4 linked regions of the Homo sapiens genome follow. Each later gene encodes a partner of the first gene's protein in a complex. Each region holds a gene or a part of one and is shown in the gene's direction. Other genes may lie near its edges.

The links.
Region 2: the proteins of PARP1 (region 1) and TIMELESS are in contact, whole or in part, in a crystal structure (PDB 4XHU), measured with the Homo sapiens proteins. Residues at the interface, in NP_001609.2 of Homo sapiens: Gln846, Lys849, Pro850, Phe851, Leu854, Arg878, Ile879, Ala880, Pro882, Asn928, Lys940, Lys943, Gly944, His946, Tyr992, Asp993, Ile994, Ala995, Gln996; in NP_003911.2 of Homo sapiens: Asp1036, Gln1040, Pro1043, Val1045, Pro1046, Leu1047, Thr1048, Glu1049, Glu1052, Glu1053, Glu1056, Ser1074, Gly1075, Gln1076, Glu1077, Thr1078, Phe1079, Arg1081.
Region 3: the proteins of PARP1 (region 1) and HPF1 are in contact, whole or in part, in a crystal structure (PDB 6M3I), measured with the Homo sapiens proteins. Residues at the interface, in NP_001609.2 of Homo sapiens: Thr825, His826, Asn827, Ala828, Arg865, Met890, Lys903, Asn906, Tyr907, His909, Ser911, Gln912, Gly913, His934, Lys953, Ser983, Leu984, Leu985, Tyr986, Glu988, Thr1011, Ser1012, Leu1013, Trp1014; in NP_060337.2 of Homo sapiens: Asn234, Val236, Asp261, Arg264, Leu265, Phe268, Gln272, Glu273, Thr276, Phe277, Gln279, Phe280, Asn282, Asp283, Glu284, Cys285, Tyr287, Tyr304, Lys307, Val308, Gln311, Leu315, Leu319.
Region 4: the proteins of PARP1 (region 1) and SMYD2 are in contact, whole or in part, in a crystal structure (PDB 9CKC), measured with the Homo sapiens proteins. Residues at the interface, in NP_001609.2 of Homo sapiens: Thr526, Leu527, Lys528, Gly529, Gly530, Ala531; in NP_064582.2 of Homo sapiens: Thr105 (codon at 3,178), Leu108 (codon at 3,187), Val179, Asn180, Cys181, Asn182, Gly183, Phe184, Thr185, Glu187, Leu191, Ser196, Ala203, Met205, Tyr240, Ile241, Asp242, Ser257, Tyr258, Asn380.

The regions. Positions count from the first base shown.
Region 1 is NC_000001.11:226,404,611-226,412,756, reverse strand, and holds the start of PARP1 (poly [ADP-ribose] polymerase 1), read left to right. Parts: upstream 1-4,663; 5' UTR 4,664-4,827; coding exon 4,828-4,947; intron 4,948-8,146. UniProt on the Homo sapiens protein: Poly-ADP-ribosyltransferase that mediates poly-ADP-ribosylation of proteins and plays a key role in DNA repair.
Region 2 is NC_000012.12:56,445,936-56,453,427, reverse strand, and holds the start of TIMELESS (protein timeless homolog), read left to right. Parts: upstream 1-4,001; 5' UTR 4,002-4,118; intron 4,119-7,492. Other genes in the region: MIP (lens fiber major intrinsic protein), read left to right, coding at 276-356, 1,963-2,148. UniProt on the Homo sapiens protein: Plays an important role in the control of DNA replication, maintenance of replication fork stability, maintenance of genome stability throughout normal DNA replication, DNA repair and in the regulation of the circadian clock.
Region 3 is NC_000004.12:169,747,644-169,755,324, reverse strand, and holds part of HPF1 (histone PARylation factor 1), read left to right. Parts: intron 1-1,489; coding exon 1,490-1,649; intron 1,650-4,599; coding exon 4,600-4,789; intron 4,790-6,482; coding exon 6,483-6,581; intron 6,582-7,681. UniProt on the Homo sapiens protein: Cofactor for serine ADP-ribosylation that confers serine specificity on PARP1 and PARP2 and plays a key role in DNA damage response.
Region 4 is NC_000001.11:214,311,660-214,319,340, forward strand, and holds part of SMYD2 (N-lysine methyltransferase SMYD2), read left to right. Parts: intron 1-3,102; coding exon 3,103-3,213; intron 3,214-6,419; coding exon 6,420-6,480; intron 6,481-7,199; coding exon 7,200-7,324; intron 7,325-7,681. UniProt on the Homo sapiens protein: Protein-lysine N-methyltransferase that methylates both histones and non-histone proteins, including p53/TP53 and RB1. Specifically trimethylates histone H3 'Lys-4' (H3K4me3) in vivo. The activity requires interaction with HSP90alpha.

The DNA.
Region 1 (8,146 bases):
GACCTTGTGATCCGCCTGCCTTGGCCTCCCAAAGTGCTGGGATTACAGGCACGAGCCACCATCTCTTCTTTCCACTCCTGATCAATCTTGACAAAATATAAAACCAAACCAAGACAAATCAACTTTGTAAAATAAAGATAAAGTTGGAGGTCTCACACTTTCTGATTTCAAAACTTACTATGATGTGGCGTTGGAATAAAGACAAACATATAGACCAATGGAACAGAATAGAGAGCCCAAAAATAAACCCTCAACATATATGGTTAAATGATTTCAACAAGGGTGCCAAGATCATTCAGTGGGAAAAGGACAGTCTCTTCCACAGATGGTGGATCTCCACATGCAGAAGAATGTAGCTGGACCCATACCTTACACCAAATGTTTGTTGTGAGTTTATTTACTTTTTTGTGTGTGTGGAGACAGGGTCGTGCTATGTTGTCCAGGCTGATCTAGAACTCCTTACCTAGAGACACTGCCAAGGTAAGTGAGGGCCAAGTGGACACTGAGTGATTCTGTGCCTCACTGAGCAAAAATAACTAAACATGGGCGAAGGAGAGCCCAATGATCCCAGGGACAAAATGTCATCACGGGCATTCTGCGCACGCTTGCCAGGATACAGGAGAAGCAACCAGACACTTCATTCATCTTCTCAGAATGTTCATTAACATGTTCAGAAAGGTGGAAAACCTTACTTGCTAAAGAGAAGGAAATTGGAGGCATGGCCAAAAGTATTCAAGGCCCTTTATGAAAAAGAAATGAAAACTGATATCCCTCCTAAAAGAGAAGTAAAACAGAAATTCAGAGATTCTAATGCACCCGAAAGGCCTCCTTTGGGCTTTCACTTTGTGTTCTGAGTACTGCCCTCAAATCAAAGGAGATCCCGGTCTGTCCACTGGCAGTGATGCCAAGAACCTGGGAGGGACATGAGTGACCATGCTGCAGATGGCAAGCAGCCCAAAAAGAAGGCTTCTCAACTGAAGGAAAAGTACCAAGAGCAGAATGCTGCATATCCAGCCAAAGGAAAGCTGATGTGGCAAAAATGATGCTGTCAAGGCCGAAAAAGGCAAGAAAAAAAAACAAAGCGGAGAAAGACAGAGAAGGTAAGGAAAATAAAAAATGAAGTCGATGATAATGACAAATAAGGTGGTTCTATGGCAGCTTTTTTTTTTTTCTCTTGTCTATAAAGCATTTAACCTACCTGGACACAGCTCATTCCTTTTAAAGAAAAAAATTGAAATGTAAAGCCACCTAAGATTTATTTGTAAACTGCATGATGGCGTTCTTTTTCTGTTTTTGTATTATTAACAAGAATTATCAAGTAATTCTTCAGACAACCCTGTCCTGGTGGTATTTTGTATAGCCACCAACTTTGCCTGGTATACTATAGGGGTTATAAATCAGCATGGGAATTTCAAATTTAAGGCACAGTATAAGTTAGTTATATACAAATGTGAAGTAACATTATTAATTAAACTGTTGGCCTGTGCGAAGGGAGGGCCAACTGTGGGATTCAGTCATTCATTCAACAAATATTGGTGAGTGCCTGACACTGTTCCAGGCACTGAGGCTATTGCAACAAAACAGACACAAGCTCCTGCCCTCATGGAGCTTACATTCTGGTGAGGGATACAGAGCCACCAAAAAGGATGGCAGCTGGGCCATGAGAAAGGATCAAAGTCAGGAAGTTAGAATTCGGGGATGGATTGAACATGGGACAAAAGAGAAGAGTCAAGTTGACTACAAAGCATTTGGCCTAAGTAATGCAAAGAATGGTGGGCCATTTCCTGAGATGGGAAGCACTAGGGTAGTTTTGGACATAAATGGAGATGCATATAAGCCATCCAAACTGAAATATTGAGAAGGCAGTAGGTGATAGTTGGCTTTCCTTAGGTTCTAGGGCAGGAATTCTTAACCTTTTGTGTGTGTGCCTAGGACCCCTTTGGTGGTCCATGAAGCCCTTTCCAGAATAAATATTGTGGAGGAACCTACCTTAATGCAATAGTAGCTTCTAGGTACATTATCAGGCAAACTATCCCACAAGTTACAAAACAGAAAGCCTCACAGACCAAATTATGATGCTTGAATTGCAGGGTTTATTGAATCAGTTTAAAACCACTTACAGCAAGAACTCGATGGGGTGCATAACATACACAGGATAGGGTACAGGCGAGGCAGATGGACCACACCACCAGAACCTAGAATTAGGGAATCCTCCCCTCCCCTCCCCTCCCACCCCTCCCCCCTTCCCCCTCCCCTCCCCTCCCCTCCTCCCCTCCTCTCCCATCCTCCCCTCCCCTCCCATCCTCCCCTCCCCTCCCCTTTTCTCTTCTTTTCTTTTTTTGAGACTGTCTCACTATGTTGCCCAGGCTGGAGTGCAATGGCGTGATCTCGGCTCACTGCAACTTCCACCTCCTGGGTTCAAGCGATTCTCATGCCTCAGCCTCCCGAGTAGCTGGGATTACAGGCACGCACCACAATGCCCAGCTAATTTTTGTATTCTTAGTAGAGACGGGGTTTCACCATGTTGACCAGGCTGGTTTTGAACTCCTGACCTTAGGTGATCCACCCGCCTCAGATTCCCAAAGCGCTGGGATTACAGGCATGAGCCACTGCACCTGGCTAATATTGATATGTTTTCCCTCTCTCTGCCGCATCAGCCTGTCCCACTGACAGAGTTGAGGATGCTCAAGGCGGCTCAACAGAGGGTACCTGGAGCAACTCACACTGCACTATCAGAGAGACACAAGTGCAAGCACACTCAGCCACAGCTGCAGCTCACCAATCAGCCTGCTGAACAGACCTGAACTTTAGCTGCATTTTTGGGGCAGAGCATATGGGTGCCAGGATGGGACCATAATCTTATCACCAATGAGTGGCCATTTAGGGATGATATAGTTGTCAACCCAGAGATGGCATGATCATGCCTTTTGACTTGGTCATTCTCTAAGTAAAACTTTTATTTGTTCCATCATATTTTCCACTTATTCTGTTTACCTTCAAAATATCTTTTTTTTTTTTTTTTGAGACAGGGTCACACTGTCACCCAGGCTAGAGTCCAGTGGCACTATCATGGCTCACCACAGCCTCAACCTTCAGGGCTCAGGTGATCCTCCCACTTCAGCCTCCCGAGTAGATGGGACTACAGGCACCTGCCACCACCCCCAGCTAATTTTTGTAGAGACAAGGTTTTGCCATGTTGTCCAGGCTGGTCTTGAACTCCTGGGCTCAAGGGATCCGGCCACCTCAGCCTCCCAAAGTGCTAGGATTATAGGCATGAGCCACTGTGCCCAGCCTACCTTCAACGTATCTAACTGGTTACTAACTTTTAGGATTCGGCCTATGTCTCACAACCTTCTTGCTTACTCAACATCCTTGTCTCTTAAGCCACTAGCTTCTTCTCTATGGTTAACACTTTTTATGAGTTTTATTCATCTGCTTATTTTTCTTATCCTCTATACCAGAATTGAATATTTTCAAATAAAGCACACTCATGTTACAATCTTTGAAATGAAAAAAAAAAATGCATAGGATTAGAAAAGAAACCAATTTTAATAAACTATATTTTGAAGTATAGTTCTATATTAAACAACAAGATCTAGGCCAGGTGCAGTGGCTCATGCCTGTAATCCCAGCAATTTGGGAAGTCGAGGTGGGAGGATTGCTTGAGGCCAGGGGTTCAAGACCAGCCTGGGCAACATGGAGAGATTCCCCATCTCTTTCTTTACACACACACACACACACACACACAAAATATCTGATAGCAACAGGTGCAGTCATTACCACAATTTCGAGTAGTGATGAGCTTAATAATATTTCGAGTTATCACCAACAACTGTAAAGTAACATGAAAACGTCTGTGATGACTATTGCCCACAAAGTCACAGGTACTGCTAATACTCCTGGTATTTGTAGTCAAATTCATAATAAAGGAAATGCTAGGTTTCAGTTGGTATTTTGTCCCGACGGTCTGTGGACGGCAGGTTAGAACGCCCGTCCAAGCCAGGAGGGTGGACCTAGCACTGCAGGGTCCACCTCGGGCCAATCAACTATATTCCCGAGGCGGGGGCCTGCGCTTCCCGGACCCAGCTGCCCTCAGGGGAGAGAGGACACACTTAAGAGTTTGGGGCCGGCGTGGTAGCTCATGCCCCTGATCCCAGCACTTCGGGAGGCTGAGGCGTGAAGATCACTTGTAGCAGGAGTTTGAGACCAGTCTAGCCAACTTGGCGAGACCCTGTCCCTAAAAAAAATTTTTTTTTAATTAGCCAGTTGTGGTGAGCGCCTGTAGTCCCAGCTACTCGGGAGGCTGAGGTGGGAGGATCGCTGGGCTCAGGAGTTCCAGACTGCAGTGAGCCATGATGGCGGCACTGCACTCCAGCGCGGTGAGACTCAGTCTCAAAAATAAAAGGGGGAGGGGTTGGGGGTAAAATTAGTTGTGAAATCAAGTAAGACTTCCTGGGACAGAACAATCAAAGGGGTGGCGCCGGGTCCTCCAAAGAGCTACTAGCTCAGCCCAAGCCCCGCCTCGGCCCCCAGGGCAGCGGCCCGCAGAGCTCCACCCGGCAGGCGCCCGGGAAACTCCGCCCCCCGGCCGGCAGGGGGCGCGCGCGCCGCCGGCCCCGCCCCGTGGACGCGGGTTCCGTGGGCGTTCCCGCGGCCAGGCATCAGCAATCTATCAGGGAACGGCGGTGGCCGGTGCGGCGTGTTCGGTGGCGGCTCTGGCCGCTCAGGCGCCTGCGGCTGGGTGAGCGCACGCGAGGCGGCGAGGCGGCAGCGTGTTTCTAGGTCGTGGCGTCGGGCTTCCGGAGCTTTGGCGGCAGCTAGGGGAGGATGGCGGAGTCTTCGGATAAGCTCTATCGAGTCGAGTACGCCAAGAGCGGGCGCGCCTCTTGCAAGAAATGCAGCGAGAGCATCCCCAAGGACTCGCTCCGGATGGCCATCATGGTGCAGGTGCGGGCCGCTGTGCGGGCGGCGGGGCGGGGACGCGGCGCCCCGGGTTAACTGTGTCCGGGAAGGCTGGGGGAGGGCGGGCCCAGGGAGCGAGCGGGCCCGGGCCCTCGGAGCGGCACTTGGGGCCTATGGGGCCGCGGCCGCCCCTCCTCCCGAGCGGCCCGGCCGACCCTTCCGGAAGGTTTTGCTGATGTTGCAGGAAAAGCCCGGGAAATAAAGTCTGCAGCTGGTGTTGCCTTTCGCTTTGTGAAAACGAGGAGCCTCTTCTCTTCTCCTTTCTGGGTGGCGGTGTTTTATTACTGCCGTTCGCCTCAGGGGTTGGGGGGGAATTGTACATGGTCTCTTTAAGCTAATCTGATTTTGACCTATCTTGTTCTGGAGGGTTTTTGTTCTACATGGATGGTGGCGACTGACATGTGGGTTTTTTTTTTTTTTGTTAAACCTATTTTTGGCAGTCATTTCAACACGTCATTTAAACGCTCACTCTCATTTTTTATTTTAATTAGGCAGAACTATGCAGAAAGGTGTCATTTCTGTACAGTACATTCACTTTGAGCCTAATTTGTGCTTTAAAGTAACATTTTCCCCAAATTTTCCAGATTCACAGACGCGTTCTCTTGGTGCATTTGCAGCTGTCTGGTTTGAGTAAGAGTGGCTCCAGGGGGGTTTCTCATGTGGGCTTTTTGATAGATTGAATCCCCTTCTGAGGTTTCCTGAGCCTTCTGTGAGGTGGTGGGCTTGAAGGCCCCTGTCATTTCCCAGGGGCTCCTGCCTCCAGCTTCCAGTTTGCCGATGTCTACCTTTGTATTAATAATTCTGGTTCTCATCTGCCCTGTTCCTCCTCGCTTCCAACATATTACCCAAGCTTAGTGCTCATGGTCAAGGTAGCTTGATTTTCCTCCCTTCCATGAGCTGTAATGTGTTTTAGGAATGACCAGATATCCCTCAGTGGATTTTCAGTACTTAGTACAAGGGAGGGCGACATTTACCGAGTGGATACCCAAGTGCCAGGTGTACTTCCGTTATCTTATTTCACAATATGCCTGTCATCTTGGTGTCCTCGGGGCATACCTAAGTCAGTACGTGGCACACAGTGCTTATTTGGTAGGCATTTTTTAAGTTCTAAGCACTCTGTTAGGTTTTAAGGACACAGAATCCACCTTTGGGAATTTCCAGTTTGGTTAAACGGGAAATGACTGGTAAACAAACGTTACCGTAAGAGAGGATGGATGCCACCTGATGGAGCTGTGCTCTAGGCATTGTGTGCCTAGGAGTCCGAGATGACCCAGCTAAGGGTGGAAGCTTGATTAGGAGTCGTTAATTCACAGAAGTGGAGCAGAAAGATGAGAATAGGGAAGTAGACAGGGCCTACAATTTGAAGAGCCTTGTTGCCCACTAAGGAACCTAGAACTTACTTTGAATATACAAGGCAGCCTGTTATGAAGTTCTCACTCCTGGTGCAGGAGCTCTTAACCCAGGGTCTGTGGGATGGTAGGTAGAAGGCAAGAGGTCCATGAGTTTAGATAAGAAAAAATTGATATCTCCATCTCCACTAACCTCTAGATAAAATTATTTCCTCTAATCATAAATGTAAGCAGCAAAGCAAAGGCATATTAGCAGTCCCTATTTTTTTTTCACCAGTGATAATTACAGATATTTTCATATCACTTTACAGTTGGAAGTTTTTCAAAATATAATTTACTCTCATTGCTACAAAAATCACAGTTATTAGAGGCTGTACTAGATCTTGTTATTTAATGCTTAAAAGCTCACGGGTTACTGTACCCAAATTACCTTTCAAATGTTTTGATAATTATCTCAGTGTTTCCTTTTCGAGCCTTTTTGTTTGTTTTGTTTTTTGAGATGGGGTCTCACTATGTTGCCCAGGCTGGTCTCAAACTCCTGAGCTCAAGCGATCCATGCACCTCGGCCCCACAAAGTGCTAGGGTTACAGGCATGAGCCACCGTGACTGGCCATTTGCGAGCCTTTTTATTACGCATTTTTAAATGTTATTCTGAGAAAGGGACATCCAGGCGCCTTAACAGGTGGGCAGAGTACCGTGTTCTGGTGGAAAGACAAACAAAACCCAAGTCCAGACTGTGTTGAGGCTAGAACAACACCGCTGTGGAGGAAGTTAGAGGAGGCTTAGCTGTGGGGGAGGCCGGATGGAGGAAACTGAACCTGATCAAGTTTAGCATTCTGGGGCCGGGCTTGGTGGCGCATGCTTGTAATCTCAGCACTTTGGGAGGCTGGGGTGGGCAGATTACTTAAGCTCAGCAGTTTGAGACCAGCCTGGCCAACATGGTGAAACCTGTCTCTACAAAAAAATGCAATGATTAGCGGGTCGTGGTGGTGCGTGCCTGTTAAGTCCCAGCTACTCCGGAGGCTGAAGCTGGAAGATTGCTTGAGCCTGGGAGGTGGAGGTTGCAGTGAGCTGAGATAGTGCCACTGCACTCCAGCCTGGGCGACAGACCCAGACCCAGACCCAGACCCTGTCTGAAAAAAAAAATAGTAATAACAACATTCTGGGCTTTCCTTTGGTATACTTGATAGTGAAAGAAACTCTTTATTATTAAAAGTAACTGTGATTTTTATGTAATGGTGATTAAGGGTGGATTCAGAGTTTTAATTCAGAATTTAAAGTTGGTCTGGTAGACTGAGCTGGTGAAGGCCAAAAAGAAAGAAGCCTTTTCACTTGCTTGAATTTAAATACCTTCTTTTACATTTACATGGGAGTATTGTTCTCTGAGTATCTGATACCTGACACTTTAGCCCTCATGCCTGGGGCATCTTGGGAGGGATGAGCTGGGCCCTCCAGCATTTTGGTGGGAGGAGGATGGCGGTAGACCTTTGAGTTGCTCTGTCCTGGGAGGGTTTGAGCACCCGGAGGCATGCAGTGAGGTCAGTTCATTCTCTCTGTGGCCTAGGTGGACAGGTAGCATGGCCTGTTCTGCACAGAAGGGAACCCAGTTCACCAGCTGCTGGTTGGGTGAGGACCCTGGTATGTTAGGTGCTCAGTTTTTGCTTGGGTGCACAGCCAAAGATTCTGTGCCTTGCCTCAGCTGTGCAGCTAACAAATGGAGTCGATAGTCTTGTGACCTTGGTTTGGTGCCTTTCTGCCACATCATTCTCAGTCCTGAGTTTAGGGCAAAGCATTGCTTTGGTCAGGGGTGCTTCTGCTGAGGCTCTTGTCCTCTA
Region 2 (7,492 bases), on another chromosome or scaffold:
TGACTGCTATATCTAGTCCTTCTTGACCCCAAGGTAGAAATGAACGTATCATGGCTAGACATGGGCTTTGCCTATGGATCCATAGTCTGTTCCCAGACAGGGCATCAGTTGCCCTCACCCCATTGCAGGAACCCCTGGAGAGTCATGCAGGCTGTCCCTCTCCACTTGCTGCTGGCTGGAGAAAAGATGGCAGCTCTCAGGGGCAATGTGGGTTGTGGGGAGAGAAGCTGGGGTGCAGTAGGGGGGTGTCTCAGTTACAACTGTCTCTTTTGCAGATGTATTATACTGGTGCAGGCATGAATCCTGCCCGCTCCTTTGCTCCTGCCATTCTCACTGGGAACTTCACTAACCACTGGGTGAGTGAAGGGAGAGGGGCAAGATCCTGAAGCCCTTCTGGATGGTTGTGGACTGCAGGTTCCAGGCTGGATTCCTGCTTTCCTTCTGCGTGTGTTGGCTGCTGTACCAGCACTCAGCTAAGGGGGCTGTCAGAGAGTTTGGCATGCCTGTGTGAGCAGGATTCATGATTTTGCTAGAAGGAGAGGCTCTTGCTCATATTTTTCCTTCTCTGGTTAGTCAGGGAGTATGCACTGAGTATTCACTGGTTGCTGAACTAGCGGGTATGAAGAGAGACAACTAAATATGAGCAGAATAAATTCTGCTCTCAGAGATCAAGATGTGTTGTGAGCACAGATGGGCCTCAGCCCCATTCCAGTTCTAATACGTTATCGGCTTTGTGTGTGACCATGGGCAAATAATCACTCTGTGCTTCAGTTTGTTTTACTATAAAATGGGACATTACGAGAAATGTGTGAAAGTTATATGTGAGAAACATTTAGCACAGAATCTGATATAAAGTAAGCACTCAATAAATATTGGTTATGTTGATGTTGTGCAAGCCAAACATATGGAAATAATTTAAAAATTTTTCAAAGCTGTACACCCATTTTCATAACAGCATTATTCACAATAGCCAAGAGGTAAAAGCAACCCAAGTGTTCCTCAGTGGATGAATGGATAAACAAAATGTGGTATATACATAAATGGAATATTACCTGTAAAAAGGAAGGAAATTGTGACACATACCACAACATGGATGAATCTTGAGGACATTATGCTAAGTGAATAAGCCAGTCACAAAAAGACAAATACTGTATGATTACATTTATATGGGGTATTTAGAGTACTCAAATTCACAGACGCAAAGTAGAAGGATAGTTACCAGGGGCTGATGGGGGTGGGGTGGAATAGGCAGTTGTTTAATGGGTATAGAGTTACAGCTTTGCAAGATGAAAAAGTTCTAGACATAGGTTGCACAACAATGTGAATATACTTAACACTACTAAACTGTACACTTAAAAACATATATATATTTTTTTGAGATGGAGTCTCCCTCTGTCACCCAGGCTGGAGTGCAGTGGAGCTTGATCTCAGGATCTCAGCTCACTGCAACCTCCGCCTCCTGGGTTCAAGCAATTCTCCTGCCTCAGCCTCCTGAGTAGCTGGGATTTCAGGCGCCTGCCACCACGCCCAGCTACTTTTTGTATTTTTAGTAGAGATGGGGTTTCTCCCTGTTGGTCAGGCTGTTCTCAAATGGCTGACCTTGTGATCCGCCCGTCTTGTGATCCGCCCGTCTCAGCCTCCCAAAGTGCTGGGATTACAGGCATAAGCCACTGCGCCTGTCCAAAAATATTTAATATGGTAAATTTTATATGTGTTTTACCACAATGTATAAAATTTTTTTGAAAGCAACATACAAACTAGTGCAAATTGATAACAAATAGAATATACACATGCTAAGGTGTGGGATAAAGGAGTAATTTGATGAATCAGAAAATAAATGGTGAGTTTATTGTAGATATCAAGTGTACAATATCTTGTTTTCCACTAAGGTGGCTGGAAAAAGAGCAGCGTTGCTACTCTGTCCCCTCCCCAAGCCTGAGTATTCCTTTTCTCTTTCTACAGGTGTACTGGGTAGGCCCAATCATTGGAGGGGGTCTGGGCAGCCTCCTGTACGACTTTCTTCTCTTCCCCCGGCTCAAGAGTATTTCTGAGAGACTGTCTGTCCTCAAGGGTGCCAAACCCGATGTCTCCAATGGACAACCAGAGGTCACAGGGGAACCTGTTGAACTGAACACCCAGGCCCTGTAGAAGCTCCAGCTGAATAGAGGGAGTAGAAAGCTTCTGAGTTTACGTGGAGGGGTTTAGCCAGCCCCTAGATGAAGAAAGAGACTGTGGGGAGGGTCATGTACTTCTTTATTTTTTAACTTATGTATGTGGTTGTTTTTTTTTTTTTTTTCCTTTTGCTGTGTGAAATCTTTCAAGTTGCATTCATGAGCTGGTTGGTGCAAACTTCCCTTCCTCCCCATCCCACCACCCTTCGCCGTGTGTGCTGATTGTGCATATGAATGTGAGTGTGGCTGTGTCTGAGTTTTGGGGCATGAGAGCTAAGGAAGCAAAAAGAGGTGCCATCCTATACCTCCCTTCCTCGACCCAGTATGGTGAGTACTGGGTAACCGACACCTTAAGTTTCTGGCCTTTACCCTGCTGCCAGTCAAGTGTGTGGCTCTTGATTTCTGAGGGAACAGAGAAGCAGGGAGTTACTCCTCACACGAGGCAGATGGAGAGAAGTGGAGGAGACAAGGCTTCCAAGGGTTAGGAGAAGGGACTCAAGGGAGGTGGGTGGTGAAAACGGAGTATTAGCCCCAGATCAGGATGTAGGTGTACCGAAGAATTGGGGGGAAGTTAATGGGAATATATAGCCTACTTATCTTAGGGATGCTTGCCCCAGGGACTTGGGTGGGGAAGTAGCTCTGAGAAAAGTGAACACTAGGATTTAGCTGTTCTGTAAAGCCACGTAAACCTGTCTACATCCGCTGGCTGGTTGTGTTCATTCTGACATAATGGATCTCTTCAGAGGTCCTGGGCCAAAGAGCTTCCAACCTAAATAGAGCTTGGGCAAGCCTAGAATCTAGAAAAATTAAGCAGCTTAACTGGTCAGCCTGACATCCACTGTTGTGGCTGCCTGGCAGATGGTATTTAAGCCCCACAATTGTTCCCTAAGGCCAACACAGGAAATCTGATTCCTGGAGCAAATAAATGAACGGGTGGTAGTAGGGGGCATGAGGGGAGAGGCTTTGACTCTGTTCTAATTTATTTAGAGCAAATCAAAACACTCCTCAAATGGCATCTTTCTGCTTTTATCACTAGTTCCGTGTTTTTTTTCTTGTTTTGTGTCTGTGTATTTTCATTTCTCTGTCATCCGTCCTTTCATCTTGAAGCAAATCTCTTCTAACTCCCTCATACCCCAGAAATTGATTCCTTCTATTCAAATGCTTAATAATTCAGGAGATTATTATTTGTTTGAGCCCTATCTTCTTTTTTTTTTTGAGAGGGGGTCTTACTATGTTGACCAGGTTGGAGTGCAATGGATATTCACAGGCACGATCATCGCACACTACAGTCTAGAAATCCTGGGCTCAAGCGATCTTCCTGCTTCAGCCTCCCCAGTAGCTGGGATTACAGGGGGCCAGAGCACAGCCCTATTTTCTTTTCCTTTTGGCAAGATCATCTCAGCAGAGGCCAGAAGAGACCCTCAACTGTTCAATGAATATTTACGGTTGCTTTCTTCCTTTTATGAGCCTCTTGCATACTTTGAAAGCTTTAAATTTATACCTATAATACAACGGACATCCCCTATCCCAGAAGACCATTCCTCCCTGTACTTCAGCTCTTTACTTCCTCCCAAATAAAACCTAACTTTTCTAACTAACTATTTAAGACTTGGAATAGTCCGCTTGACTAGAAGAAGGGGAAGAATGTTTGTAAATTCACCTCTAATCGGACTTTGATTCTACTATAATTCAGCAGAAAATTCATAGCGCTGTGATTTTTAGATCGACCTCACATAAAACAGTCCCTGCACTCGCTTCCCTTTTCCTTCCTTCTTCACCAATCTCCGCCCCAGTTCGCTCGGAGTCACGTGGACCAGCCCGGCTCGCCCCGCCTCGCTCTTCGCGCAGGCGGGGACCGGTCCAGCTGAGCCTGGTGGCGGAAAGGCTGCGGCCCCGCGCCAGAGGGCCGGTGGCTCCTCCGGGCTTCTGAGGACCCGCAGGGAGCGGGTGAGTGAGTGTGTGGCGAGAGGGCGCTAAGCGGACACGGGGATCCTTTCGAAGCTATGGGGGCATTCTCGGGAAACGCTGAGTCCCTTTTCCCGCCACCCGGTTTAGAGCCAGGGGGCGGGGCTCGTGCTGCAGGCGCGCACGCGCAATTCTGTACTCTGCTCCTTAGTCTCCCGCGCCGCGTTCCCGGGTCTCACCGGACGCGGGCTTAGCCCTACGCTGCTCCGCACAGCTTGGGTCTCCCGCGGGATGGGGTTGTGATGGAAAGGGGCTTGGAATTCCTGAATTAGAACAGAAAGTGCCTGAGGGAGTTCCACTTCGGAGCTTAGCATCTAGTTGAGACCTCCTGAAAAAAACCGGTGTGTGGCCTGGCGGTCAGCAGTGGTCGGAATTCACAGGCCGCTTTACTTATATCGTGGGTTTTATGGAACGGATTTCTCACTCCCTCCCTTCGTTGCCTTGTTCGGGTTTGTCACCTGGACCTCAGCCGCTAATGAAGCTTTTTTCCTTGAGCCTCTCAATTCTTTGCCATTCGTGCTTCGACTAGTACTTTCAATTTTTTATTTATTTTATTTTATTTTGAGACGGAGTCTCGTTCTGTCGCCCAGGATGGAGTGCAGTGGCGCCATCTCGGCTCACTGCAACCTCCGCCTCCCGGGTTCAAGCGATTCTCTTGCCTCAGCTTCCTGAGTAGCTGGGATTACAGGCGCGCGCCACCATGCCCGGCTAATTTTTGTATTTTTTTTAGTAGAGATGGGGGTTTCACCTTATTGGTCAGGATGATCTCAAACTCCTGACTTCGTGATCCGCCCGCCTCGGCCTCCCAAAGTGCTGGGATTATAGGCGTGAGCCACCGCGCCTGGCCTGTTTGTTTTTTTTGGTTGTTTTGTTTTGTTTTGTTTTTGAGATGGAGTCTGGCTCTGTCGCCCAGGCTGGAGTGCAGTGGTCCGATCTCGGCTCACTGCAACCTCCGCCTCCCCAGTTCAAGCGATTCTCCTGCCTCAGCCTCCCCAGGAGCTGGGATTACAGCTGCCCGCCACCACGCCCGGCTAATTTTTGTATTTTTAGTAGAGATGGGGTTTCACCATGTTGGCCAGGCCGGTCTCGAACTCCTGACCTCAAATGATCCGCCCGCGTCGGCCTCCCACAGTGCTGGGATTACGGGTGTGAGCCACCACACCCGGCCCTACTAGTACTTTGTACAAAGTAAAGGTAGATCATCTGATGTTAAATTTAAAACTCCTCTTTGACCACCCACAGTTAGCCTTAAATCCGTAGGTGGGTGTCTGTGGCCTCTCAGTCTGGCCCTGACCCTCTCAATCTCATTTTGTAAATCTCTTACGCACCTGACTCCTGGCCACGTGGAAAGATTGTGGCTGCCCTCTTTCATATCTCAGTACTTAGTTCCTGCTGTTCCTTCTGCTTGGAAGATCTTGACACTGCTCTGCCAAGCGAACTTCTCTTTGAAGACTGAGCTTAATTGTCCCTCTGAAAATCAATGTATCCAGCTTCCTATGCCAAGTTAGTCACTTCTTCCTGTGTGTCCCTGAAGTTTTTTACCCCCCTCTATTACCAGGGGCACTGATACAGCTCAATAAAAGATCAATAAAAGGTTACTGAGCTCCTAACATGTACCATGCACTGTGCTTAGCGCCAGGCTTACAGAGATGAGTAGGATGGAGAGTTCCCGACCCTTAAGGAACTCAAGTCCTAAGGAAAACACATGTAATTGAGTCTTCTGTGGTTACAGTGAAAGGGTCATCAAGAAGTCCTTCCTGGCTTCCTTCCTCCTCTCACTGCACTCACACCATCTTACATCCTGATGCCTCCAAATCTTTAGCTCCAAACTCTTCTCCCTCATCTTCCAGACTTCTCTGTTTCAGTTCAATTTAGTAAAGCATTTATTGAGCACTTACATTGTGCTGCGTAATGATGATTCCTGATGTGAAAGAGTTTACGTTTTCGTGCAGTTAACATAGGATAGTTAGAATCACCTGAGGAACATTGTCAAAACACTTGCCTAAGCCCCATCGCTGGAAATTCTGATCCTGTAGCAAGGCTCTGAAAGTTCAAGGGTGAATAAGAATTCCTATCTCTACTAAAAAAAAAAAAAAAAAAAAAAAAAAACAAAAATTAGCTGGGTATGGTGGCATTTTCCTGTAATCCCAGCTACTTGGGAGGCTGAGGCAGGAGAATCACTTGAACCCGGGAGGCGGAGGTTGCAGTGAGCCGAGATTGCACCATTGCATTCCAGCCTGAGTGACAGAGTGAGACTCGTCTCCAAAAAAAAAAAAAATAAAAAGAATTCCTGTCCTCAGGGAATCTAAGGCTAATGGAGGGAGATAGACTTTGATTTTAACTATTATATACAACATGAATTGTAAGTACCATGTTGGAAGTCTGAATATGGTACACAGTAGACATTAAGGAAAAGGAGGTCACTTCTGTATGGAGAAGTCAGGAGGAAGTCCCTTTTGGGCAGTCTTTTTTTTTTTTTTTGAGATGGAGTTTTGCTCTTATTGTCCAGGCTGGAGTGCAGTGGCGTGGTCTCCCAGGTTCAAGCGATTCTCCTGGCTCAGCCTCCCAAGTAGCTGGAATTACAGGCACCCACCACCACACCTGGCTAATTTTTTTTATTTTTAGTAGAGACAGGGTTTCACCATGTTGGCCAGGCTGGTCTTGAAGTCCTGACCTCAGGCGATCCATCCGCCTCAGCCACCCAAAGTGCTGGGATTACAGGCATGAGCCACTGCGCCTGGCCTGCACAGAGTCTTCAGAGCTAAGCTGATATTTGGATGGGAGGCCATTCTAGATAGAGTAGTGGCTTGAGAGAGAAGCGTGAGAGGTAAACAGGAGAGAGATTCATGAAAGACTTTGTATTGTAGGCACTGGAGGTCACTGAAACTTTAGTTTTGTATAGTAATGCATGCTAATAGTAAAGAATTCAAATAGTACCAAAGGGAAAGACAAATATTTCTCCTATCCTAGATCCCCTAGTTCTCAGAGACGATCACTATGAAGTTTCTTATGTATCCATTGAAGTGTTCTAAGCAGGATTGTTATATGCCTAAATCAGGTAACCATATTGAGGCTAGATTGAACAAGACTGGAGGCAGCTGCATTCATGCCTGTAATCCCAGCACTTTGGGAGCCCAGGTGGGTGGGTCGCTTGAGCCCAGGAGTTAAAGACCAGCCCGGGCAACATGACAAAACCTTGTCTCTAGAAAAAATACAAAAATTAGCAGGGTGTGGTGATGTACCCTATAGTCCCAGCTATTTGGGAGGCTGAGGTGGGAAAGTCACTTGAGCCTGGGAGGTTGAGGCTGCCGGGAGCTGTGATTGCACCACTGCACTCCAGTCTGGGTGACAAAGTG
Region 3 (7,681 bases), on another chromosome or scaffold:
TATAAGTGGGTCCACAAAATTCAAACCCTTGTTGCTCAAGGGTCAACTGTAATATTAAGTGTAATAGTCTATTGTTTGAAAACCTTACAACTGTTCTCCTAACAATAGGTATTTCATTTGTTCTGTTTTTGCTCTTGGAATTAATGCCACCATGACCATTCTTGTATCATCTGATTACATTTTGTAGACGTTGAATGATACCTAACGTTAATAAACTTCAGACTACTGAGAAAATAGAAGAATATAAATATGAGGGGGCGGGGGGAGGGATAGCATTAGGAGATATACCTAATAATGACGAGTTAATGGGTGCAGTACACCAACATGGCACATGTATACATATGTAACAAACCTGCACATTGTGCACATGTACCCTAAAACTTAAAGTATAATAATAATAAAATAAAAAAATATATAAATATGAGAAACATCTAGCTCAGAATTTCTCAACTTGAGCACTGTTGACATTTGGGGCCAGTAGTCTTTGTTGAGGATGCCTATCCTGGGCATTATAGGATGTTGAGCATACCTGGCCTCTGCCCCACTAGCACCGTTTCTTCCAATTGGTGACAACTAAATAGGTCTCCAAATGTCCCCTGGGGGGCAAAATCACCACCGGTTGAGAACCACTGCTCTAGGTAGGAAGAATAAAAAGGAAAGAACTTAATCCAAAAAGAAAGAATCTAGGTTCATAGAAAAACAGATTGCTGCTTAGAAAACTAAACATACGTAACTTCCAATTAAGCATATTGTCTTTACAGAAATTTATCAAATATCTAGTAGGCATTATAAAACCTAGTATACTTATATAATGAACCTGTATTGTGGTGGTCCTAGAGATGAGTATTATAACTTCATCCTGGCATTAAAAGGCCTTTTCTGAAATAATTGGATTTTTGGCCCAGAGTTTAGTGCTATTCTGCTAACTTTATTAGGAACTATAGATGTTTAACATTGTCACTAACCTTCCCTCTTTATCTGGAAAATCAAAAGGGAGGTATCTGTTTTTAAGGCTGGGTAATGATTGTAGTGAATAGCTCAGACACAACTCTAGAAGTTGCTAAAGAAACAGCTTTTTAACTGATGAATTGCTTATATCCAGTTACTTCTATTTGTTTCTCATTTGATCAATGAATCTGTTTAAAAGACTCACACCTTTAACCAAAAGAGGGCAAAATCTGCCCTTTCTTTATTCCTCTCTTCCTGCTCTTTATTATTTCTTTTTTTTACCTTTTTGTTTTTTGTGGTTTCCATTATCTTACAAAAATATATTTAAAGACTTGCTGTGTGGATTCCTCTTAACCACCATATAAACTACTCTTTTTTCCTGTGCCCAAATGAATTCCCAGATTTTACTCAAAGACCATTTAGAGAGTTTTAAGGAAAACACATGTATTTCATAGAGTTGGGTGAACAAGAGTGATAGATACTGTTATGCAAGGAGAGTTACTGAAATTTGGAGAACTAAAGTTTGTGTGCCAATTTTCAGTGTGAAAAAACAACTGATGTGAAGAAAAGTAAATTCTGTGAAGCTGATGTCTCCAGTGACCTTCGAAAAGAAGTAGAAAATCATTATAAGCTTTCTTTACCTGAAGATTTCTATCACTTCTGGAAGTTCTGTGAAGAACTTGATCCTGAAAAGCCATCTGGTGAGTTGCTCCAGAATCATTCTTGTATTAATGGAAAGAGTAATGTAATAGGAAACCAGCTGGGTGTGGTGGCTCACACTCTGTAATCCCAGCTGAGGCAGGAGGATTGCCTGAGGCCAGGAGTTTGAGACCAACCTGGTCAACATAGTGAGACCTCCACAAAAAAATTAAAAACAAAAACAAAAAACTAGACGTGGTTGCATGTGCCTATAGTCCTAGCTACTTAGGAGACTGAGATGGGAGGATCCCTCCTTGAGCTCAGTGGTTTGAGGTTGCAGTGAGCTCTGATCACTCCAGCCTCAGTGACAGAGCAAGACCCCGTCTCTAAAACATAGAATAATTGGCCAGGCATGGTGGCTTATGCCTGTAATCCCAGCACTTTGGGAGGCTGAGGCAGGCAGATCACTTGAGGTCAGGAATTCGAGACCCGTCTGGGCAACACAGTGAAACCCTGTCTCTACTAAAAATACAAAATTTAGCTGGGCATGGTGGTGCACACCTGTAGTCCCAGCTACTCGGGAAGCTGAGGCACGATCATTGCTTGAACCTGGGAAGCAGAGGCTGCAGTGAGTCGAGATTGTGCCAGTGCACTCCAGCCTGGGTGACAGAGCAAGACCCTGTCTCAGAAAAAAAAAAAAAAAAAAAAACCTAACCAAGGATATAAACTGTTCATAGAAAACAAATATTTTCCAAGATGTTTCTTCTAGTAAGAGAAAATATAGAAAGAAATATAGATTAATGCTATAGTAATGCCACTGTCACCTAGTTTATTGGCAAAGGTAATTTCATCACATTCTGGGGGAATGTGAAGGAAAGCAAGCTCTTTCATGTGTTGCAGGAGTTATAACAGTTCTGCTTCCAAGAACTTGTCTTATGGATTACATAAACTAAGAATTATGTTTGAGGATATTTACTTAAAGAAAAAATGGGAAATGGCTTAAATGCCTACCAATACCACATCTATTCAGTAGATCTTCATTGTTTTAAAAGAATGAAGCAGATTTTTAGGAAATAATAAACTATCATGCCTGAAATATGTTAAGTGAAAAAGAAGAGTGTATAGAGTATGCTACCATTAGTATTTTTTTAAAAATAGCATGGGGGAGAGAGAGTACACACATATCCCTGTATACTTTTCTGTGTGCTTATTTTGTCTCTGAAAGGATAAAGAAACTGTTAATGGGCTGTGTTCATTACTTTGCACTATACTATTTAAATTTTTTAACTAGTAGGCACTGTCATACACTATTGATGGAAATGTGTATTGATACATATTCTGAATTTTGCCAGTAGATCAGAACAGAACTGTGTAGCTGTTTCTTTAAAAATAGTCATGCCTTTAGCTGGGCGTGGTGGCGGGTGCCTGTAATCTCAGCTACTTGGGAGGCTGAGGCAGAGAATTGCTTGAACCCAGGAGGCGGAGGTTGCAGTGAGCCAAGATCACACCACTGCACTCCAGTCTGGGTGACAGAGCGAGACTCCATCTCAAAAAAAAAAAAAAAAAAAAGTCATGCCTGTATACAAACATTTATTAGCAAAGATGTTCACTGAAACATTTTAGAACAGAAAAAAGAAATAGTAAATTTCCCTCAGTAAGAGAATAGATGGTTACCTCTTTATAATGCAGTATTATGCCCTATTAAAAAATCATGTCAAATAACATTGAATAGCATGGAAAAATATTCAGAACATTTAAATGGGACAGGATGGAGGACAAAAGCAGATTACAATACAAAACAACCCTTCTCAGTTTGTTACATGTTTGTATCTGTTCATGGGGGTGGAGAGTATGGAAATTTGTTACTGTATAATAGACTATTAACTGTTATCTTCGGCTAATGAGATGGATGGTTTTAGTTTTCTTCATGCTTTAAAAATTAGTGTATGCTCTCCTAAGCTTCAGTTAAGCTGAACTATTTTTCCTGTCAAGTTATCTCCATGCTTCTATTCATGTTATTACCTCTTCCAGGAATTTTTTTGTTTTCTTCATCCTTCCCTCCTTATAAAACTGGGTCCTGTCTGGGGTGCTTCCCTCCATCTTAGAAGTAAGGACCCATTTGAAGTTATGCATTGTACACTTGCACAGACTTCATGTCTTTGTGGTTTATGAACACTCCCTGTCTGTGATCCGTGAATAGAGAAGGAAGATGGAGTCATCCAGGGTTAGGGTTGGCCAAATAGATTGTCAAAGAGTCAGGGGAATCTGGTGTGATTAGCTGAGGTAGAGGAAAGGGGATAGAAATGTTTTTTACCTTTTTTTTTTTTTTTTTTTTGAGACAGAGCCTCACCCTGTCACCCAGGCTGGAGTGCAATGGCGCAATCTCGTTTCACTGCAACCTCCACCTCCAGGGTTCAAGTGATTCTTGTTCCTCAGCCTCTCCAATAGCTGGGATTACAGGCGTGAGCCACCACACCCGGCTAATTTTTGTATTTTTAGTAGAGACGGGGTTTTGCCATGTTGGCCAGGCTTGTCTCCTCCTGACCTCAGGTGATCAGCCCGCCTCAGCCTGCCAAAGTGCTGGGATTACAGGTGTGAGCGACCACACCTGGCCTGTTTTTTACTACTCTTAATCCACACATTTTTGCTATCTTTCTCTCCCTTAACCTGTGTGTACTACAAGTATTTGAGGCTAACTGCAGTGTGGTAATGGGCCTATAGGAATACAAACCAGTCTTGCTTTGGCCAAAATAAGAAACAACAGGAATGTCTGAAATGTTAGGCTAATTCAGTGGTAAATTTAAGAGGAAATCCTAAATGTAAATACCACTTTTCCTGTTACTCTGACTTCTTTTCCATTGAATGTTTATAACTGACATCTTCACACATAACTCAAGATTTTTTTAGTTTAGAAACTTTTTAAAGACAATTGCTTAGAAATAGTTTACTAAATAAAAGCATTATTTCCTACCTGTCTCCAGAAAGTATTGTCTAAATTTATTTTCTTTATAGATTCACTTTCTGCAAGCCTTGGACTTCAATTAGTTGGTCCTTATGATATCCTTGCTGGAAAACATAAAACGAAGAAAAAATCAACAGGCCTGAATTTTAACCTTCACTGGAGGTTTTACTATGATCCTCCTGAGTTCCAGACCATTATTATTGGAGATAATAAAACTCAGTACCACATGGGGTATTTCAGGTAAAGGATCTTTTCTTCGCCTCTAAAATACAGCTGCTGTCCTGCTAATGAGGATAAATAGTTATTCACTAGCCTCACCCAAGGTGAAAGGCATATTTTCCCCTGTTGGTGGATATATGAGCCATCTGTTGTTCTTGCTGTTACCGTTTTAACCTTCCCTAGGATGGGTAAACTCTTTAGGTTTAATCTCACTTGTTTTTCCTTTCCTTGTAAACTTTTTTTCCCTTTTGGGTTCAGAAGAGCTCTTTTGGCCCAAGAAAGATAATTTAGAGCAGCTGTGCTTAATAAGCCGTGTGCCAGAGTGGCAACTGGTAGTTAAGAGTGGTCTCTGGAGTCACACTGGTCCTCTTGTTTATTATCTGTGTGACCCTGTATCATTACTGACTGTGACTTTCTGTGACTCGGTTTCCTGTCTTGTAACAATAGGGATAACTGTACATACCTGATAGGAATATTATGAGAATTAAATGAATGCATGCAGAATACTTAGAAATAGAGAAACTCCAGGAGGAAAATACTTGTCCGCTTGTACCAGTAGAAATGCTATCCTTTAAAGTGAAGATTAAATGTAAGGTAATAGAAGGAACGTGCCCAGGAAGAAGTGTTGTAGTACAGCAGAATGCACATGTGGCTAGGAATTGAATTATACTGTAGCCAAGGTCCTAACTTACTAGGTCCTTGGCTGAGTAATTTAACCTCTCGGTATTTGTTTCCTCAATTTTAAAATAAAAGGTTTGGTTATATACGTGAATAGGATCCTTTCATCTCTAATGTTTTACAATCCTTTTTCTTGTTTTTCCTTTTTTTTTTTTTTTGTATTTGAGTATAAAAGCAACTAGGTCCTAAGAATCTTAGTTTTAGGTTCCATTATATAAGATTTATCATAGATATTCCTAAGAAACTTGGAGCTTAAAACTGGCAAATTTGTTTGAATTTTTTTAAAAATGCCCTTATAAAAAAGGCATCAACCTAGATCCTTGGGAGGGACCTGGCTTTCCTTTTTAAAAGATATTTTACTGAGGAGCTGATGAAAAATGACTAGTGTGGGGTTAGCAGATCGAATAATTTGAAGTAGACCATGCAGTATTCCTACCACTACAATGTAATCATCCTATTTGTGACAGAGAAAGGGAAAAAAGTGTAATAATAGGACGATGTACCTATAATTTGGATAATTTTGAGCTATTGAAATGTCTTTGTAATTTTCACAACTGTTGTCCGTTGTTTGAGGATGCTACCTACTAAACTGAAAACATTCATTCCATATCTACTACATATACACCAGCAACAGTATAAATTTAAGCCTAACTTTGCAATATTTATAATACTTTAGTGATGGAATTTTTTAACATGCAGTATGTAAATGTGCAGATTTTATGTGTGTTGACAAAATTTTTCAGCTTGCAAAATGGGACTGCAATATTACATTTTTCACTTAAACAATTTTTTACATCTACGTTGTTGCTTTCTAAAATGAATGTGAATGCCATCTTTTATGACTGCAACTTGCCTTTTCCATTACAGAAATTTTTGTTTGATGTAATCGATAAATTCTGGTATGATTAAAAAAAAAAAAAGGCCTCCAAAAAGGAAAAAAAATAGGTGTAAATTGTTGTCTGTAGACCTGAAATCCCACTTGCCTGATAATATAAATTATGGGCAGCTAAATTTTTAATGTCTTTTGCTTACACAGGGATTCTCCTGATGAATTTCCTGTATATGTTGGTATAAATGAAGCAAAGAAAAATTGTATAATTGTTCCAAATGGAGATAATGTATTTGCTGCAGTCAAGTAAGAATATTTTAATTTATATTTGTTTACAATGTTTATACTACATTAGTCCATTACAAAGGGGGTTTGAGGGGCTGGGCACAGTGGCTTACACCTGTAATTCCAGCACTTTGGGAGGCCGAGGTGGGCAGATCGCTTAGGTCAGGGGTTCGAGACCAGCCTGGACAACATGGGTATACCCCATCTCTACTAAAAATACAAAAATTAGCTGGAGGCATGGTGGCACACACCTGTAATCCCAGCTACTCAGGAGGCTGAGTCAGGAGAATTGCTTGAACACAGGAGGCGGAGGTTGCAGTGAGCCGAGATTGCGCCACTGCATTGCAGCCTGAGTGACAGAGTGAGACTCTATCTCCAAAAAAAAAAACAAAGCGGATTTGAGACAAGCCCATAATTGTAGATTTCTAGAGATAATTTCCATGACTTTTGCAGGTAGTCTTATCTATACTGTTATTTTGTGCCTCTTCACCAAAAAAATACACCTCTTATGTAACTATTTTACTTAACGAAAATAATACTTGACCTCAGGTGTTCCATGGCAACATCAACAGTTTTGTTAGACATCTGATTTTAAACACCTGTTAAGAGTTTATTTCTTATGTATGGTTCAAACAGAAAGGCTTAATAAAGTAAAAAGAGGTGGTCATTATATCCTTGGAAGGGTTGAGGGAGCAGGCTGAGCTTCCAGGAATGACAGTTGTGTGGCTCACAGTGGATTTTGTCTCTGCCACCATCAGGGAGCTGGGAATTCGAGAACTGCTGCCACAGTGAGTGGCTCTAGGACCACATTATCTTTGGTATAATCTGGGCCAGGTAAATGGATGCCCTACTCTTTGCCTCTCAGCCCCCGTGAAGCTAAGAACCAGGTGCTGGGATCTCAGCTACAGCTGCTGCAGAACCATCAGATGCCTCTACAGCTGTGCTCATTGATGGAGATCGTGGAAGCACAGCCTCCATGTGGTATCTCTTCTGCCTCTGAGATTTCAAAGTATTGCAGCTGCTTGGAAGAAGATAGGTCCCATGTGGAGCCTGAGCTAAAGAGTAGTATGGGAAATGCAGTGAACTTTCATGGGGAAGGGGTTGGAATAGAGGTGAGTGAG
Region 4 (7,681 bases), about 12 Mb from region 1:
ATTATGTAGTATTTACAGTACCATTAATTTTAAATCAACTACATTAATAAATTGATATTTTATAAATAATAATTATATTAATAAATGTTCATATTTAACTTCCCAGGAATTCATTGTAGTTGCTAAACACCAAGGCACCACCTGCAGTTCAGAAAACAACAGCTTGCAGGCCCGTTAGGGACAGAGATTATGTCTTGGAGTTTTCTTGGAGTTGCTGGAGTCAGAGTGGGCATTTGTCTATAGTTGTTAATGATCCATCTGTCCCCAGCTGGTAGGTCCCCATATCCTCTCAGGTATCCCGAGGGTCATCTCTGTCTTTTCCTCTTTGCTCTGCAGCTGAGGAGGGAGCTGATTAGTCTGCAGGGAGACAGACCCACCTGTTCCCACCTCTTCGCCTCATCACCATGCTCTCATTTTAGGCTTTGGCTAAAAACAGATTCTCTTCTCCCTTGTGCATATCTTGTCATTTCTTTTCCTCCCTGCTCTTAGTTATATTTGGCGCGGCATTATTTAACTCTGCAGAACATCTTGGCCCAGAACTTGAGCTAAGGGGCTGCACCATAGACTGCATTAAATCATTAAGTGACATTATGTGCTTCCTTCTTGGGGGATCAGTGTGGAGGGAAGCGGGTAGGGAGATATCTTCATTCCTTCAACAACTATATTGAGTGCCTACTAAATGCCAGGCACTGTTGTCAGTTCTGGGGTTACAGCTATGAACAAAACAAAATTTCTTTATTTTCCTGGGGAGAGACAGATACTAAACCAAACAACTAATAAATATATAATATGCTCAGGTGGTGAGAAGTACTAAGAAGCAGCAGAAAGCAAGGAAAGGAAGAATGATGGGGAAGTGCTCTTTCTGACAGGGTGATTGTGGCAGGTATCTTGAGAAGGTGACATTCCAGCAGCGGCTGGAGAGGAGGGAGGGAGTCACATGGATATCCAGGGGAGGAGAGTGCTAGCCACAAAACAGAGCAAGTGCGAAGGGCCTTGAGGCAGGTACATGGCTCCAGGCGCAGCCAGGACACTTCTGTGGCTAAGTGCAGTGAGGCAGGTGAGAGTACGGTGGGGGATGATGGGCTGGGGTGGTGCAGGGACGCTCCCATCACGTGTGGCCTCCTAGGTCACCTTTAGCGCTTGGCCTTTTGCCTGGATGAGAAAAGCCATTAGGTTTTGAGCTGAGGACTGGCCTGATCCGAGTTTTGTCAACAGAATCCCTCAGGCTGCTCTCTGGAACCTAGTCCATGGGAGCAAGGACAGAAGCGGGCATCCAGTTAGAAGGCAGTGGCAGGACATTAGTCATGAGAGATGTTGGGGCTGCAGCCGGGTAGAAAGGTTGTGGAGCTAAGAAGTGATCAGATTCCAGGCAGAGACAGAGGATTTGCCAGAACTGACTGAATGTGGAGTGTGAGTGAGAGAGCAGCGTCAAGGATGACTCTAGCTTTCTGGCCTGAGCATTTATTTTTATTTTTGAGACAGAATCTCACACTGTTGCCCAGGCTGGAGTGTAGCGGTGCACTCTCGGCTCACTGCAACCTCTGCCTCCTGGGTTCAAGCGATTCTCCTGCCTCAGCCTCCTGAGTAGCTGGGACTGCAGGCACATGCCACCACACTTGGCTAATTTTTTTATTTTTAGTAGAGATGGGGTTTTATCACGTTGGCCAGGCCAATCATAAACTCCTGACCTCGGGTGATCCGCCCATGTCAGCCTCCCTGCCCTGAGCATTTATGGCCATTTTCTGAGCTAGGGAAGGCCAAGGACAGAGCAGGACAGTACCCAATTCCATCGTGAAAGAGACAGTGTGTAAGGGCTTCCATCAGTATACAACGTGCTCTGATATTTCCCATCTAAAAAAAAAAAAAAGTCCCCCGCAACTTTTCACTACTCTAAGCTGTGTCTCCTTTCATTTTTTCTTGAATCTGCTCCCTGTCATTTCTTACCCCATCATCCCACCAAAACTTGTTTTTATGAAAATCATCAAGCTTCCATGATTCCAAATCACATTCTCCGTCCTCTCACACTAAGCCTATCTCCAGCACTGGCATCATCATTTACTCCCTAGTCCTCAAAGTACTTGCTTCCCTCAGCCTCCAAAACACCATGGTGTCCTTCTCTCAATGCCTTCCCCATCTCAAGTGATGGCGCCTCCACCCTTCCAGCAGCAAATATCCTTCATCCCTCTACCCGGGGCAGGGAAACTTCAGGGCGTATGATAGAAAGAATACTACTGTTAGGCCAGGCACGGTGGCTCACGCCTGTAATCCCTGCACTTTGGGAGGCCGAAGCAGGTGGATCATGAGGTTAAGAGATCAAGACTATCCTGGCCAACATCTTGAAACCCCGTCTCTACTAAAAATACAAAAATTAGCCGGGCGTAGTGGCACACACCTGTAATCTCAGCTACTCAGGAGGCTGAGGCAGGAGAATCACTTGAACCCGGGAGGCAGAGGTTGCAGTGAGTCGAGATCGCGCCACTGCACTGCAGCCTGGCAACAGAGCGAGACTCTGTCTCAAAAAAAAAAAAGGAAAGAAAGAATACTACTGTTTTATCCAGTGCATCTTTGGGAAGTCCTAACTATTCCTAAATCTTTCCAGTGGTTGCCCTTCATGAAACCCTCATTTGTGCTTTTTAAAAAGTCGCCTGTAAAAGGGACTCATTGCTGTGTAAGTCAACTCTCCATTATTTGCCCTGACGTGAGAACAAAGCCAGAGCGGAACTGTGAGGCAACAAAGCCAAATCAATGGCTGATACTCAAATTGCTCCCTCTGCAATTTGACAGCTTGCACAGATGATGGAAAGATGTATGTGTTGTTTAGAATAATGAGGGGCTGCAGAAAGCCATGAGGTGCTTGAGGAAAAAACACAAAGTAGATCTTCTCATCCCAACAAGCTTGACCCAGGCCTGAGTGAAGGTCATACAATCCTGCCTATCTTAAAGGATGTTTTTATCTCTAGCTTTTGTGAGCATCCTCGTGTTTTCCAAAAGGAAACATATTTTACTTGACCTTAACTAGGGGGACTCACTGCATCCTCTCCTCTCACACTTTATTCCAGTGTATGTGCTATTTTTTAATAATGTTTTTTTCAATCTTCCCAGAAAGAAGATTGGCCCATGCACAAGCTGGAATGTTCTCCCATGGTTGTTTTTGGGGAAAACTGGAATCCCTCGGAGACTGTAAGACTAACAGCAAGGATTCTGGCCAAACAGGTGAGGAAATGGGACAATGTTCAAGTGCATTTTATTTTGTTTTTCTTTTAAAGGTCAGAAAGATGAGTAACTGACCTTTGGTAACCATCTCTCGTTAAACATCCTTAGACTACATTTCCTATCATATCCATATGGACAGGGGTGGGGAAAATACTCCAGGCATAATCTAGTTAGTTGTGTGCCCTGTGCAATTAGGATGTTGCTTACCCTAGACCAGGAGCATAGCCACAGCTCTGAAATTCTGAGCTGTTTTCATGACAGGTTTACATGGAAATACGTGACATGAAAAGCCTGACCTCAAATAATTAGAGCTTCCTAGGGAACCAGATTGGTCTGAGCAGCTTTGAGATTTTCCTCTCTTTCCATTCTGACATAAAGAGTGTACTCTGTTCCCCTTTCCTGTGTAATATTCTGCTCTTTCTTGGCTCCTTTCTTGCCTGTGCATAGGCAGGCAAAGAATTGGATGGAACAGCCTTGACTATGACATGTGCAAAGAAGAGAAAGAGTGGAAAAGTAGAAATAGAGGCAAGGGAGAGGGGAAGAGAGTTAAAAAAAAAAAGTGAAGAAGAAGGAAAGAAAGAGGTGCCCTTGATGGAAACAGATGATAGTCATCAATGGCTTTCTCCAGAAGTGATGCCAACTCTGACTATTCTGTGGTGGGCAGGACTATGCAAACTTACGCTCAAAGAGTGAGGAAGCTGAGAGACAGAAGAAAGAAGCTGACAAATCCAGTTTATTAGAAACATTTACTAGGACTTATGAACTGAAGCCATGTCTATGTCTTGGGCGGCAGCAAGACAAGATGGTGGATCCCTGCACCATTACCCACCAGAGCCAGGGCTTATATACCATAGGGAAGAAATGTGTACAGCAGTTACAAGGAAAGGCAAGGATGCTATGCAAATCTGCCTGAGAGCAAGATTTGTGCTCAAGATTGTATTGACCTAAGGCAGGATTTAAGGTAGCCATAGACAAAGTAGAAATCTTAGAAGCATTCCCAGAGCAGGAGTTAACCAGAAATCAACATGGTATATCAGCATCCAAGATGAAATTGCTTTAGCCACCGTACTGACTGTTCTCCGCCTGGTCTGGTTCATTCTTGCTGATTGCATAATAATTAGACACCTAATCTTCGAAGGGCCAAACTAAAAAGAGGACAGGAAAATGCCATAGAACTTGTCCTTGTGATCCAATGAAATAGGCAGTGTGGGGCTTAGAAGGCATATGTCCAGGCTGTGGAGGTCTTGCTCCTCAGTGCTGTCAGAGAAGTTGGTGGCAGGGCCTCTGGACTATAAATCTTTTAAAGCTGAAATTTTGGCTGGGCATAGTGGCTCATACCTGTAATCTTAGCACTTTGGGAGGCCAAGGCAGAAGGATTGTTTGAATCCAGGAGTTCGAGACCAGCCTTGGCAACAAAGTGAGACCCATTCTCTATAATAAATTTTAAAAATTAAAAAAATTTCCCAGGTGTGGTGGTATACACCTGTGGTCCCAGCTATTCTGGAGGCTGAGGCAGGAGAATTACTGGAACCCGGAACTTCAAGGCTGCAGTGAGCTGTGATTGTGCCACCATACTCCATCCAGCCTGAGCAACAAAGTAAATGAGACTCTGTCTCTAAAAATGAAAAAAAAAAACAAACTGAAATTTCATCCACTTCTCCTGTATACCTACCAGCCCTCCTCCACCCTTAAAATTTTTCTATTTTTTAATCTAAGCCAAATGTGATGGAAATGATTAGCATGTATCTGTCCCCAGACCAAGTTAGGATCCTGGGCTGTGTAAACAGAAGTAGAACATTTCAAAACTCTGAGGTCATCCTTCAGCTATGTTCAGCTTGGGTCAGGTGCTTGCCGAAATGCTACCTCGCCAGCCAGCCGAGAGTAACAAAGGCCATTCATGGGTTGCCTGTAGAGTGAGACCAAAACATCAGAATTGTTTCCCTGCAGGAGGTTAACTTTCGGATCCTTAATAACAGTTATTTTTAAATTTATGCAGAGTATTTGGGCTGAATAAGTCAGAGGGAATAGGATGACTGGGTGTGAGGTATCAGAGTCAGTAAGTCATCAGATGGGATCTCCGCACATCTTGGGAGGATTGGGTGGCCAAGCTGGTGTTTTATTATTTTGTTCCCCTGAATTATTGATGATATTTATAGTGATATGTTAAGAATTCAGAAGAGGCTGGTAGACTTTCCTGAATGAAAAGCTTTCCCAAGCGAGATGACTTATAAATCTTATAAAAATGCATCCCGTGAATGGAAGATTTCTGCTCCAAAAAAGAACTATTGAAATATTTCGGCACCAGGAGGGTAGTCTGAATGCAAAGATGAGTTTATACAAGCTTCATTCAAGTTTTATTATAATTACTACTACTACTAATAGTGTATTAAATGAAAGTTACCTGCCCATCTTTTCATCTCTATAGGACTTGATGATTAAAAAAACAGACCATTTGTATTCTAGTAGCTTGCAAAGGATTAGGGGAGACAGGCTACCAAACTACCAAGGGGAGGCTTAACATGTTAACTAGGGAGGTGAGCGTGCCCTGCTAGACCACCTGTATCCCCAAATTGAATAGCCACATTACAAAGACATGGCCTTGGGCCAGCTCCTGAGCTCTGCCTTTGAACTCTTGTCAACACCAAGTTTATTCATGTTCTCAAAGCCTAGCGGGTTTACTATTGTTAGCTCCTCTTGGGGTGTCTAGAACAAAGCCAGCAACGCGTTTAAAGTGAATCTGGGCTCACAGATACAACCAAAAGTGTTCTTTTTGAAACACAGAATTTGAGATCATTTTAGCCTATGCTTAAAGAAAGTGTAAAATGGATGGGGGGTTTGATTTTGTTCCTTTTTAGAAGGAGAAATAATAAATAGGATGGTTTGTCTGTAGACCCAGTCCTTTTAAGTAAGGACCCTAAAAAGTTGTTTTCCGGCCCTGTTCTTTCCCGTAACAGGTATTTCTGAGCCTACTGTGTGCATAGTATTATCAGGGTGTTAGGTACACGGTAGACATTTAAAAAAGCGCTTTAGAAGAGTCTTTGGATTTGGCTGGTGGAGAGCCCTAGTGGTGGAGTCCTTGAGTAGCTTGTTTTACTTCCTTAAGAATTGTTACTTTTTCTTTATGTTGATGTAAAAGTGAAAGTGCCACTTTATTACACTGGTTGTTAAAAAATCTGTATCTGTGTGATTTCTTCCCCAATTGCTAGAAAATCCACCCAGAGAGAACACCTTCGGAAAAATTGTTAGCTGTGAAGGAGTTTGAATCACGTAAGTCTTTCTGTGACCAGCCGCGCAGTTCTCTCAGCCACAGATTTCACATGGGTTGGGCAGGATTGAAGCGAGGACGGGCTAGTTTGTGCTCAGAGGAGTAGTGATTTCTTTGATTACTAGTTTTTATTTTTACTCTTGTGCTGTTTCGAAAAGCACTTTTAGCTTTTTTCTTCTGAGTTGACAGGATTGTTAGGAAATAATTAAAGGAGGTAGGAGCTCCCAAAATGAATTATTGCACCCTGAGCTACCTCCTGCTGGCCCTCTTGGCATGCTGAATACTTTTGGATCTTTGCTGAATTGCGTCCTCTAAATAGCTGATGTTCTTACTGAAAGCCGTGAAATCAGGGGTTGTCCAGTTGTTTGACCACGGCCCAGATTCCCGGGCCAATTGGGGGGCCCTTGACTAGGCTGAGGCTGGTTATGAGTCATTGCTACCCATCCCTGACCTCATTGCTAACAGTCAGTCGAAATCTCACGTCCCAAGTGACTTCTAGTCATCAGAGGGAGAGAAGGAAGAAATGGCTTGCTTTCTTTCCTTAGGGTTTGTCAGTTAAACCAAGTAATGGGGAAGAATGTTCTCTGGGGGTTCAACATGTTAGTTTTGGGTTTTTTTTTTTTCGCCCGTTCCTTTCCTCTGTATCATTTACAGCAAAAATAGGATGTAGCTAGAAATCCCACGCTTTCTACTGGGTGAATAATGGATTATTTATCCACAGATCTGGATAAGTTAGACAATGAGAAGAAGGATTTGATTCAGAGTGACATAGCTGCTCTCCATCACTTTTACTCCAAGCATCTCGGATTCCCTGACAATGATAGCCTCGTAGTACTCTTTGCACAGGTAAGGACGCTGGCAGCAGGTAACACTCAGTCTGGCCTTTCCCTCTCCAAGGCCCTCTCCCTAGCAAGCACTCAGTGAAGATGAATGCAAATAGAATGATGGCATCTTCCTGACAACGAAGCTCTGAGCCAATTGGACCGTGTGTTGCCATAGCCTTGCTCAGTGACCTTGAGCAGATCAAGGTCCCCTCTGCTGGCCCTCATTGATGGGTGGAGTGTAGGAAATTCGCCTCTGCCTCTGCCTCACAAAGAGTTCATGAAAACAAAGGAGTTGTCAGTGCCCTGGTACTCTGGCATACTTTAAGCTCTTTGCAAAGAAAAGACCATTTGAAGTTCCTACATTAAATTTTACTTTTAC